Linked DNA regions of Homo sapiens. The protein of the gene in region 1 interacts with the protein of each later gene in a pairwise test. Each region holds a gene or a part of one and is shown in the gene's direction. Other genes may lie near its edges. The genes, in order: SNIP1, STK3 and POU2F1.

Region 1 (3,653 bases):
ATGATCCGGTTTCCCTGTATCTTTATCAGCATTTCAAGTTATCACTTTATTTTAGCCATTCTGATAGGCGTGTAGTGGTATTTCATTGTGATTTTAATTTGCGTTTTCCTTTTTTTTTTTTTTTTGAGACAGAGTCTGGCTCTGTCACCCAGGCTGGAGTGCAGTGGCACGATCTCGGCTCACTGCGACCTCCGCCTTCTGAGTTCAAACGATTCTCCTGCCTCAGCTTCCCGTAATTTGCATTTTCCTAATGGCTTATGATATTGGACATCTTTTCTTTGTGTGTCAGTGTGTGTGTGTGTGTGTGTGTGTGTGTGTGTCACCCAGGCTGGAGTGCAATGGCGTGATCTTGGCTCACTGCAATCTCCCCTTCCCAGGTTCAAGTGATTCTCCTGCCTCAGCCTCCTGAGTAGCTGGGATTACAGATGCCCACCACCACGCCCAGCTAATTTTTTGTATTTTTAGTACAGAAAGGGTTTCACTATGTTGGCCAGGCTGGTCTCAAACTTCTGACCTCGTGATCTGCCTGCCTCGGCCTCCCGAAGTGCTGGGATTACAAGCGTGAGCCACTGCACCTGGCCTTGGACGTCTTTTCATGTGCTTATTTGCCATCTATATGTATCTTCTCAGGTGCAATGTCTCATGTCTTTTGCCTGTTTATTTTTTATTTTTTATTTTTTATTTTTTGAGACGGAGTTTCACTCTTGTTGCCCAGGCTGGAGTGTAATGGCGCGATCTCAGCTCATTGCAACCTCAGCCTCCCAGGTTCAAGGGATTCTCCTGCCTCAGCCTCCCAAGTAGCTGAGATTACAGGCTCGTGCCACCATGCCCAGCTAATTTTTGTATTTTTAGTAGAGATGGGGTTTCGTCATTTTGACCAGGCTGGTCCTGAACTCCTGACCTCTGGTGATTCACCTGCCTCAGCCTCCCAAAGTGCTGGGATTACAGCAAAGTGAGCCACCATGCCCAGCTATCTTTTGCCTGTTTTCTAATACTATTATTTGCTTTTTTACTGTTTAGTGTTTAAGAATTCTTTTTATATTGTGGATACTAGCCCTTTGGGGATAAATGGTTTACAAATATTTTTTCCCAGTCTGTAGCTGTCTTCATTTTCTTAACAGGGTTTATCTCAGAGCAAAAGTTTTTAATTTCAATGAAGTCCAGCTTATCTGTTTTTCCTTTTATGGATTGTGCTTTTGATGTCATGGCTAAGAACTTTTTGCCTAGCCCTAGATCTCTGAAATTTTCTCCTAAATTTTTTTTCTTAAAAGTCCATGATCTGCTTTCAGTTTCTTTTCAGGGTTTCAGGGTTTTTGTTTTGTTTTGTTTTGTTTTGTTTTGTTTTTGTTTTTTTTGCCTATGAATGTCCACTTGCATCAACACCATTTGTTGAAAAGACCATCTTTCCTCCAATGAATTACTTTTGCTCTTTTGTCAAAAATCAGTTGGGCATATTTGTGTGGGTCTATTTCTGGAATCTCTGTTCTGTTTCATTTGTCAGTGTCTGTCACTCTGCCAATACCACACAGTCTTGATTACTATAGCTATATAATAAGTCTTGAAATTGTATGGACTGATTTTTCCCATTGTAGTCTTCTTTATAAAAATTGCTTTAGCTATTCAGCTTCTTTTTTCATCCATGTAAGTTTTAGAACAATCTTGCCTCTATTTTTAAAAAGTCTGGGCCGGTCACAGCGACTCATGCCTGTAATCCCAACACTTTGGGAGGCTGAGGTGGGCAGATCACTTGAGCTCAGGAGCTCCAGACCAGCCTGGGCAACATGGTGAAACCCATCTGTACAAAAAATACAAAAATTAGTTGGGCGTGGTGGCATGCCTGTGGTCCCAGCTACTCAGGAGGCTGAGTAGCTCCTGAGTGGGAGGATTACTTGAGCCTAGGAGGTTGAGGCTGCGGTGAACAGTGATCATACCACTGCACTCCAGCCTGGGCGACAGAGTGAGATCTGAAAGAAAAGTCTTGCTAGGATTTTGATAGGATTTGTGTTAAACTGGCGTTTGGGGGCAATAATTGACTTTTTACTATGTTAAATCTTCTAATCCATGAACATTGTGTATCTCCCCTTTTATTTAGATCATCTTTGATATCTTTTATCAGTGGTTGTAGTTTTCAGCTTATAAATCCTATACATATTTCTTTGTGGAATGATTATAAAGGGTATTTTAAATGAGTGTCCAAATGTTCATTGTTACTATATAGAAATATAATTCATTTTTGTGTGTTTATCTTCATCCTATATCCTTGCTGAACTAATGTATTCTAGTTTTTTTTTTTTTTTAAGATTACTTGGGATTTTCTACGTAGACAATCATATCTACAAATAGGGACAGTTTTATTTCTTCCTTTACAATCTGAATGCATTTTATTTCCTTTTGTTGTTTGCATTAGTCCGTTTTCATGCTGTTGATAAAGACATACCCGAGACCCGGCGATTTACAAAAGAAAGAGGTTTAATGGACTTACAGTTCCACATGGCTGGAGAGGCCTCACAATCATGGTGGGAAGCAAGGAGGAGCAAATCACACGGATGGCGTCAGGCAAGGAGAGATAAAAGAGTAATGAGAGCAGACACTCTTGCCTTATTCTCAATTTTGAGGGATGAGAATTCAGTCGTCTTTTTTTTTTTTTTTTCTTTTTTTTTTGAGACGGAGTCTCGTTCTGTTGCCCAGGCTGGAGTGGCGCAATCTCTGCTCACTGCAGCCTCCGCCTCCTGGGTTCAAGGGATTCTCCTGCCTCAGCCTCCCAAGTAACTGGGATTAGAGTCTGGGCCGATCACAGTGGCTCATGCCTGTAATCCCAGCACTTTGGGAGGCCGAGGCGGGTGGATCACCTGAGGTCAGGAGACCAGCCTGGCCAACATGGTGAAACTTCGTCTCTACTAAAAATACAAAAATTAGCTGGGTGTGGTGGTGGGCGCGTGTAATCCCAGCTACTTGGGAGGCTGAGGCAGGAGAATCACTTGAACCTGGGAGGCGGGGATTACAGTGAGCCAAGATCGCACCACTGCACTCCAGCCTGGGTGACAGAGCAAGACTGTTTTAAAAAAAAAAGCAAATTTTAAAAGACAAATAACAGTATAACAACTATTTATATAGCATTTACGTTGTATTAGGTATTATAAATAACCTAGTGATGATTTAAAGTATACAGAAGGATATTCACAGATTTTTATATAAGGAACTTGAGCATCCTAAGATATCTTTTTTTTTTTTTTTTTTTTTTTGATATGGAGTCTCGCTGCGTTGCCCAGGCTGGAGTGCAGTGGTGCGATCTCGGCTTACTGCAAGCTCCGCCTCCCGGGGTTCACGCCATTCTCCTGCCTCAGCCTCCTGAGTAGCTGGGACTACAGGCGCCCGCCACCATGCCTGGCTAATTTTTTTGTATTTTTTTTTTAGTAGAGACAGGGTTTCACTATGTTAGCCAGGATGGTCTCCATCTCCTGACCTCGTAATCCACCTGCCTTGGCCTCCCAAAGTGCTGGGATTACAGGCATGAGTCACTGCACCTGGCCCTGAGATAATCTTTTTTATCCACTGGGGATCCTGGAACCAATCTCCTGAGGATACCAAATGATTACTTTATTCTTTTCTCAACCTCTGAACCACCATTTTGTGTTTTTTTTTGGTTGTTGTTG
Region 2 (3,653 bases), on another chromosome or scaffold:
CAGTCTGTCTGTTCTCAGATCTCCAGCTGTGTGCTGGGAGAACCACTACTCTCTTCAAAGATGTCAGACAGGGACATTTAAGTCTGCAGACGTTTCTGCTGCCTTGTTTGGCTATGCCCTGCCCCCAGAGGTGGAGTCTACAGAGGTAGGCCAGCCTCCTTGAGCTGTGGTGGGCTGCACCCAGTTTGAGCTTCCTGGCTGCTTTGTTTACCTACTCAAGCCTGGGCAATGGCAGGCGCCCCTCCCCCAGCCTCGCTGCCGCATTGCAGTTTGATCTCACACTGTTGTGCTAGCAGTGAGCGAGGCTCCATGGGTGTAGGACCCTCCAAGCCAGGCGCGGGATATAATCTCCTGGTGTGCCGTTTGCTAAGACCATTGGAAAAGCACAGTATTAGGGTGGGAGTGACCTGATTTTCCAGGTGCCATCTGTCACCCCTTTCTTTGACTAGGAAAGGGAATTCCCTGACCCCTTGCACTTCCCAGGTGAGGTGATGCCCCGCCCTGCTTCAGCTCATGCTCAGTGCACTGTACCCACTGTCTTGCACCCACTTTCCGATACTCCCCAGTGAGATGAATCTGGTACCTCAGTTGGAAATGCAGAAATCATGTGTCTTCTGCAATGCTCACGCTGGGAGCTTTAGACTGGAGCTGTTCCTATTCAGCCGTCTTGTCTCCATCCCTATTTATTAGTTCTAATAGGTTTTTTTTGTGGAATCTTTAGAATTTTCTACATATATGATCATATCATCTGTGAACAGAGATAATTTTACTTCTTTTTTTCCAGTTTGGATGCCTTTATTTGTTTTTCTTCCCTAATTGCTCTGTCTAGAACCTCCAGTACTATATGTAACAGAAGTATTAGGCTGGTGCAAAAGTAATTTCGGTTTTTGCCATTACTTTAAAAAAAAAATGGCAAAAACTGCGATTACTTTTGCACCAACCTAATAGCATCCTTTCATTGTTCCTGATCTTTGTGGAAAAGCTTTCAGTCTTACTGCTTTGAGTATGACATTTACTTTGGGTTTTTTGTATATGGCTTTTACTATGGTGAGATAGTTTCCTTCTATTCATATTAGTTGTGTGTTTTATGAAAAGAAGTTAAATTTAATCAAATGCTTTTTCTGTTTTCATTTGAAATGATCATGTGGTTTCTTCTCCATTCTGTTAAGGTGGTGTATTGCATTGTTCGATTTTGTATGTTGAATCAACCTTGCATTCCAGGAATACATTCCAGTTGGTCATAGTGTATAACCTGTTACAATCCTGTTGAAGTGAGTGTGCTATATTTTGTTGAGGATTTTTGTATCAATGTTCATAAGGGATATTGGTCTTAGTTGTTTTGTGGTAACTTTGTCTGGCTTTGATATCAGAATAATGCCTCTTAAAATGAGTGTGGAAGTGTTCTCTTTTCTTCAGTGTTTTAGAAAATTTGAGAAGTTGAATCAAGATATTTTAATCTTTTTTTTTCCTTTTTGTGGAGTGTATGTTCCCAGATAGCCATTCACATGGTTGGCCCCATTATATCATTTAGACTTCAGTAAAATGTCTTTTGGGCCTTCTTGAATGTCAATCTAAAGTAGCTTCTCAGTCGTTCTCTATCAGTAGCTCTCTATTGTTGTCCTCATAGCAATTTTCACAGACATTTTCCTGTGTTATCCTATTTTCTATCAAATTATCCCGTTGCTTATAGATAGAATATAAGCTTGAGAGCAGTCCCTAATCATTTAGAATTTTTATGGTTGATTCTGTTACATAGGCATGATTGATTAAGTCTTTGGACATTTGTGCTTAACTAAATCTCTACCCCCTCTCTCCTTGCAGCCCTCCCGTAAGTCAGGGGTCAGGCAGAAATTTCCAAACATCTAATCACTTGGTTGGTTTTTTCGGCAACCAGCTCCCATCCTGAAGCTATCTAGGCTCCCACCAAGAGTCACCTGATCAGTATAAATTCTGGTATGGTTGAAAGGAGCTTATTATGAATGACAAAAGACAGCCCCTCTCACTCTTGTGAGAGGGTGAGAAAACAAAGATAAAATATCTTGATTCAACTTCTCACTCACTCAGTCAATTCACAGGGTCTTAGGAGATTTTGTGCCAAGAACCTACAAAGACCAAATATTTCCTGTGATTTCATAATATCACACTACCTTACAAGGTTGTTTTAAGAATAAATGAGAGAATGCATGCATAACTCTTAGCACATTGCCTGGTACAGATAGCAGTGGCTCTACTGCTACAACTGTTAAGAAGATTTTCTTTCTTTCCCATCCGTCTCTTCCTCGGCCTTCTCTACTCTCCCCTTTTTCCCTCCTCTGATAGTCTTTGCTTGTGTTTCCATTTTCCTAATCTTTCTCTGACGTTTTTTCTTCTGAGTTCTCAATATTAGGTCAGAAGTCCAGAACTTGGAAGGGTTAGGAGTGGCATTGGTGTAGGAGCTTCTCGCAGAAGATTCATTGCAAGCCTCCCTCCCTCATTTACTTTCCTTTATGTAAAGCTGTTGGTTTCATTTTCATCAAGAATCTGAAATATCTCAGGGGAAGTATCTGAATTTACTTTTTCAGAACAGATATTAGCTGTGATAGTGCCCTCCCAGTATTAGAAGATGTGGGAAATCACTATTATGATTCCTTATATCAGGCTGATTCTTGAGATATGTTGTTTGCTTTAGGAATGATACTGATAATTTTTTTTTTTTTTTGAGATGGAGTCTCGCTGTGTCGCCCAGGCTGGCATGCAGTGATGTGATCTCAGCTCACTGCAACCTCTGCCTCCCAGGTTCAAGTGACTCTCCTGCCTCAGCCTCCTGAGTAGCTGGGATTACAAGTGCACGCCATCACGCCTGGCTAATTTTTGTATTTTTAGTAGAGACGAGGTTTCACCATGTGGGCCAGGCTGGTTTTGAACTCCTGACCTCAAGTGATCTGCTCGCCTCAGCCTCCCAAAGTGCTGGGATTACAGGTGTGAGCCACCACGCCCTGCTGATACTGATAATCTTAAAGAGAGAAATTTGATCATCCTTTCATTAGTAAAATGTGTAATAAGAAAGCTTATTGTGGGAAGAAGAGGTTCTCGATTATTTACCCCTTTAGCATTTTCCTGGAGGTTTAGCGGTCATTAGAAAGAAGTACTTGTGGCTAGGCATGGTGGCTCACACCTATAATCCCAACACTTTGGGAAGCTGAGGAAGGAGAATTGTTTGAAGCAAAGAGTTCAAGACCAGCCCGGGCAACATAGCGAGATCCCCATCTCTACAAAAATAAAAATAAGTTAGCCTATTGGGTTGGCATGTGCCTGTAGTTCTAGCTACTCGGGAAGCTGAGGTGGGAGCATGCCTTGAGCCCAGGAATTTTAGGCTGCAGTGAGCTATCATCACACCACTGCACTGTAGCCTGGGCAACAGAGTGGGGTCTCTTAAAAAAAAACACACACACACACACGGAAAGACATACTTGTTACTAGTGCTCTTTCGTAAGATTTTATCTAACGTGGCATTTTAATTATGGTTTTAAAAATATTTCTTTCCAGTTAATAGAAGATGAAATTGCAACCATTCTTAAATCTACATTGAAAGGACTAGAATATTTGCACTTTATGAGAAAAATACACAGAGATATAAAAGCTGGAAATATTCTCCTCAATACAGAAGGACATGC
Region 3 (3,653 bases), about 130 Mb from region 1:
GCTTCTAATAATTGTAATTAAACCTGTTTGTAGATGTTGGTGGATAGACAATCAAAATCTTAAAACTTAAATCTGGCCACTTTCCTTCTTTGAACCATATGGCACAACATGCAAAGTTCAAGTGTTAGACATTGCCCTCTTAATATTTCTATCAACCTGCTGGTTCCTTTCATTATAGTGTTTAGGTAACTAGCAGTCAAGAGGGAAAGACAGTATTATGGAAGATTGATTTCAGTGTTGCTAATGACTAAAGACCTTGGGTTGAGCATTTCATGAAACCCAGTTGAATATGGACCTAGTAACACGTAGGAACAAGGAGAGAAAAGAAAAAGAGATAATGTGACCTTACTTTCTGAGGGAGAGGAGGCGGAAAATTGCCTTGGTTGCCATGGTAAACTTTCATCCCTTAGAGAGATGTTGGCAAACAGGCTGTATCTCCAGTGCAGAATGTTTACAGTCCTGCACTGTAATTATCTCTCAATGACTGGCAGAATTAATCAGAGCATTTATGTTAATTAGCCTTGCTGCAGTCCCCAAAACAGGTGGTGAGAAATATGCAAATCTATGCAGAATTTTAATGCTTTGCATAACCAGTTTTAATTACCGTAAAATTTTCTCTTCGTGCCCCTCTCTCTTGACTGCAGCATTTTCTCTCTGAGCTTGTGTGTTAGTTGATGGGAGTTGCTAGATTTACCGTTCTGTAAAATATTAGGTGGAAAGTTCTGTGGATCAAGTGATCATTCTCTGAGATGGTATATGGAGAAGTTTCAGACTGACCACCAGGTGTATGTTAAAATATTGGTTTGGAAGGTCTAATGTAGAGGTGAATTGAAAATATATTCTTCCCTTTACCCCCTATTTCTAGAGTTGAGGAATTGGGGGCTATGAAAAAAATCTATAAATTTGTGGGGGATGACTTTATTTTTAAAAATTGTAATAGCAGCTTTGCTGGCATTAGAATTAACAAGTTTAAAAACTTGGTATGTGAAACTAGGAAAATACAAATAAAAGAAAGGAGGTAAACCAGAACTCATGACTGAATAAGCTCATGTTTTAAATGATTCCTAAAAGATGGGGTTTTAAGTACATTTCTTTTAATCAACCATTTGCAATCTTTTATTTCCTACCCACCCCACCTCAGTCTAAATCTAATGAAGAATCGGGGGATTCGCAGCAGCCAAGCCAGCCTTCCCAGCAGCCTTCAGTGCAGGCAGCCATTCCCCAGACCCAGCTTATGCTAGCTGGAGGACAGATAACTGGGGTAAGTGTTCACTGAGAGAATTATAACAAACTTTTTCTGTGTCAGAACTGCCATTGGCCAATAGCTGATTAGAATTGTTCACCATAGCTGGTAGTAACATGGCTATGCCTGGCACTATTGTGTCTTTAAGGAACTTCCTACACTGTAGGTAGTAAGTTGCTCTGAAAAAGGAATTATCTTTGTCGTAAGTTTTCAGGATATCTTTTATTAGAATTGTGGATGCTCTGGATAAATTAAAAACCTTATTAAACCCCTGTTTCAGGTGTTGCTTCATCATGCAATGGAGTAATTATCATATGGTTGAGATCATTACACTGAAAATGGCAGTTATCCATTTGGCATTAAGACATCACTGCAGGGTAGAAGTTAAAGAATGGATTAGTACCTGCAAAAGAAAAACATTTTTCTTTAAGTTACTGTGTAATGATCTAAAATAAAGCATGTGGCTTCATATCCTAGCTCTGCAACTTACCGTATGGCCTAATTACTTCATTTCCCTCTACCTGTTTTCCTTCTGTTAAATGGAGATACTAATAATACCTATCTCACATTACTGTTGTAAAGATTGGAGATAATACATGTAAAACTTATAGAACGGTGCTTGGCATGTAGCATTCAACAAATATTGTTTATTTTTGTACTTGATCTTAGCCAAAAGGCTGAGACGTTCTGTCATTTATTTTTTATGGTTAATAAATTGGCCTGTTTGGCTATATTAAGCTTTTAAGTTTTCAGCTGTCTTTTCTCTAAGGCACCATTCAAAATATTTTTCCAATGTTGAAAATTTGTGTATTAAATTATCTTTGTGGGGGTTGGTTTAGGGCAATGGTAAGGAATAGTTTTTATTCAATTCACATCACATTAACTCCCAAGAATTTCCTAGGGTTTTTTGTTTTCTTTCTTTCTTTCTTTCTTTTTTTCCCAGTTAAGTGTGTTTTGTCAGTGGACAACTGTTTTAAGAACTGTTGCAAAATTGTTCACAAAATCCCATGAGTAGAGATGTATGTATATATATATTATGTAAAAATTAAAAATATATCTATACTTTATATACACACATATCCCTTGAAGGGTATTGAGTTTTTGAATGGTTTGGTTTTGAGCCTTATGTTTCTAATGCACAAATTGTGTTTGATTCTTTTAGAGGAGGTTGTGGCACTAAGTGACTGTACATATACTTCAGAAAATTATGGTTCCATCTTGTTTGATCAATCAGAACTTGTCACCAAAAGAAAAGTAGAACACATTTACTACTTTAAGTGTGTTTGAAATAAGTTGCATTATGAAAACAACTTTAAATATGCTCTAAATACATTTCCTACTTTACTATTTGGGTCTTGTTTTTGGTGACTAGTGTCTACAATAGTAAGAGGGAGTTGGGATTCTAGGTTCCTTTGGCTGGAGCTTCTGTTAAACCTGGGCATTAGGGTTCATTTGCATGTAAAGAGAACGGCTATCACCACCTGTTTCATAGAGATAATGTGTTGGAAAGGAGATGTAAAGTTGCAGAGACTCAGTGCTTTCAATAACAGAAAAGATTGTGTTAGGGAGGGGCCTGTAGGGAGACTTGGAAAAGAAACAAATGGAGCTCATATTCTTTAGTCATATCTTTGGACTTAATGGAAATGATGGAATATGGCAGGGATTCATGCTAATGGGAAGCAGCTGGGCCTTATCAGTTCTTTCCTTGGTTATATCCAGCATCCTTGTTCCTCATTCATCTGACTAATCACTTGCTGTTTGGTTGTGTGTAAATGTATTTTCATATCTTGTCAGTGGTGATTCTTTTTTTTTTTTCTTGCTTACTAGTTAATTACTTTTTTGCCCAAACCCTAGGGCCCTGGACAAGCTTGAATGATTAAGTCCATAGTGGGGACCACCATTTTAATTTAAATGTTCTGCTAGTAATGGTAGTTTGATCACTGATGAACATTTTAGCTGTCTGCTAAGCAAGTGAAGTTGGGTAGCTGGGGACTGATATCATTTGAGTTACCTATTTTAAAGCAGTTGGCTTGCATTAGGAGACTTTCTCCTTCAACACTTTCCCATAATGTGTTCTGGTTTTGTTTAGCTTACTTTGACGCCTGCCCAGCAACAGTTACTACTCCAGCAGGCACAGGCACAGGCACAGCTGCTGGCTGCTGCAGTGCAGCAGCACTCCGCCAGCCAGCAGCACAGTGCTGCTGGAGCCACCATCTCCGCCTCTGCTGCCACGCCCATGACGCAGATCCCCCTGTCTCAGCCCATACAGATCGCACAGGTGAGTGAGGAACTCCAATAGCTGGGGCAGCAAGTGAGGAATAAAGTGGCAGGTTTTATTTAATGTTAGATTAACTTTTTGATTGTTAGTGTGGGGCCTTAACTGCCTGAGGAGCTCTAGATCAGTGAGGTA

What was found.
Region 2: the proteins of SNIP1 (region 1) and STK3 interact in binary tests that used the Homo sapiens proteins (3 or more experiments, as listed by UniProt).
Region 3: the proteins of SNIP1 (region 1) and POU2F1 interact in binary tests that used the Homo sapiens proteins (3 or more experiments, as listed by UniProt).

The regions. Positions count from the first base shown.
Region 1 is NC_000001.11:37,547,742-37,551,394, reverse strand, and holds part of SNIP1 (smad nuclear-interacting protein 1), read left to right. Parts: intron 1-3,653. UniProt on the Homo sapiens protein: Required for pre-mRNA splicing as component of the spliceosome. As a component of the minor spliceosome, involved in the splicing of U12-type introns in pre-mRNAs. Down-regulates NF-kappa-B signaling by competing with RELA for CREBBP/EP300 binding.
Region 2 is NC_000008.11:98,707,184-98,710,836, reverse strand, and holds part of STK3 (serine/threonine-protein kinase 3), read left to right. Parts: intron 1-3,525; coding exon 3,526-3,653. UniProt on the Homo sapiens protein: Stress-activated, pro-apoptotic kinase which, following caspase-cleavage, enters the nucleus and induces chromatin condensation followed by internucleosomal DNA fragmentation.
Region 3 is NC_000001.11:167,370,776-167,374,428, forward strand, and holds part of POU2F1 (POU domain, class 2, transcription factor 1), read left to right. Parts: intron 1-1,141; coding exon 1,142-1,261; intron 1,262-3,332; coding exon 3,333-3,521; intron 3,522-3,653. UniProt on the Homo sapiens protein: Transcription factor that binds to the octamer motif (5'-ATTTGCAT-3') and activates the promoters of the genes for some small nuclear RNAs (snRNA) and of genes such as those for histone H2B and immunoglobulins.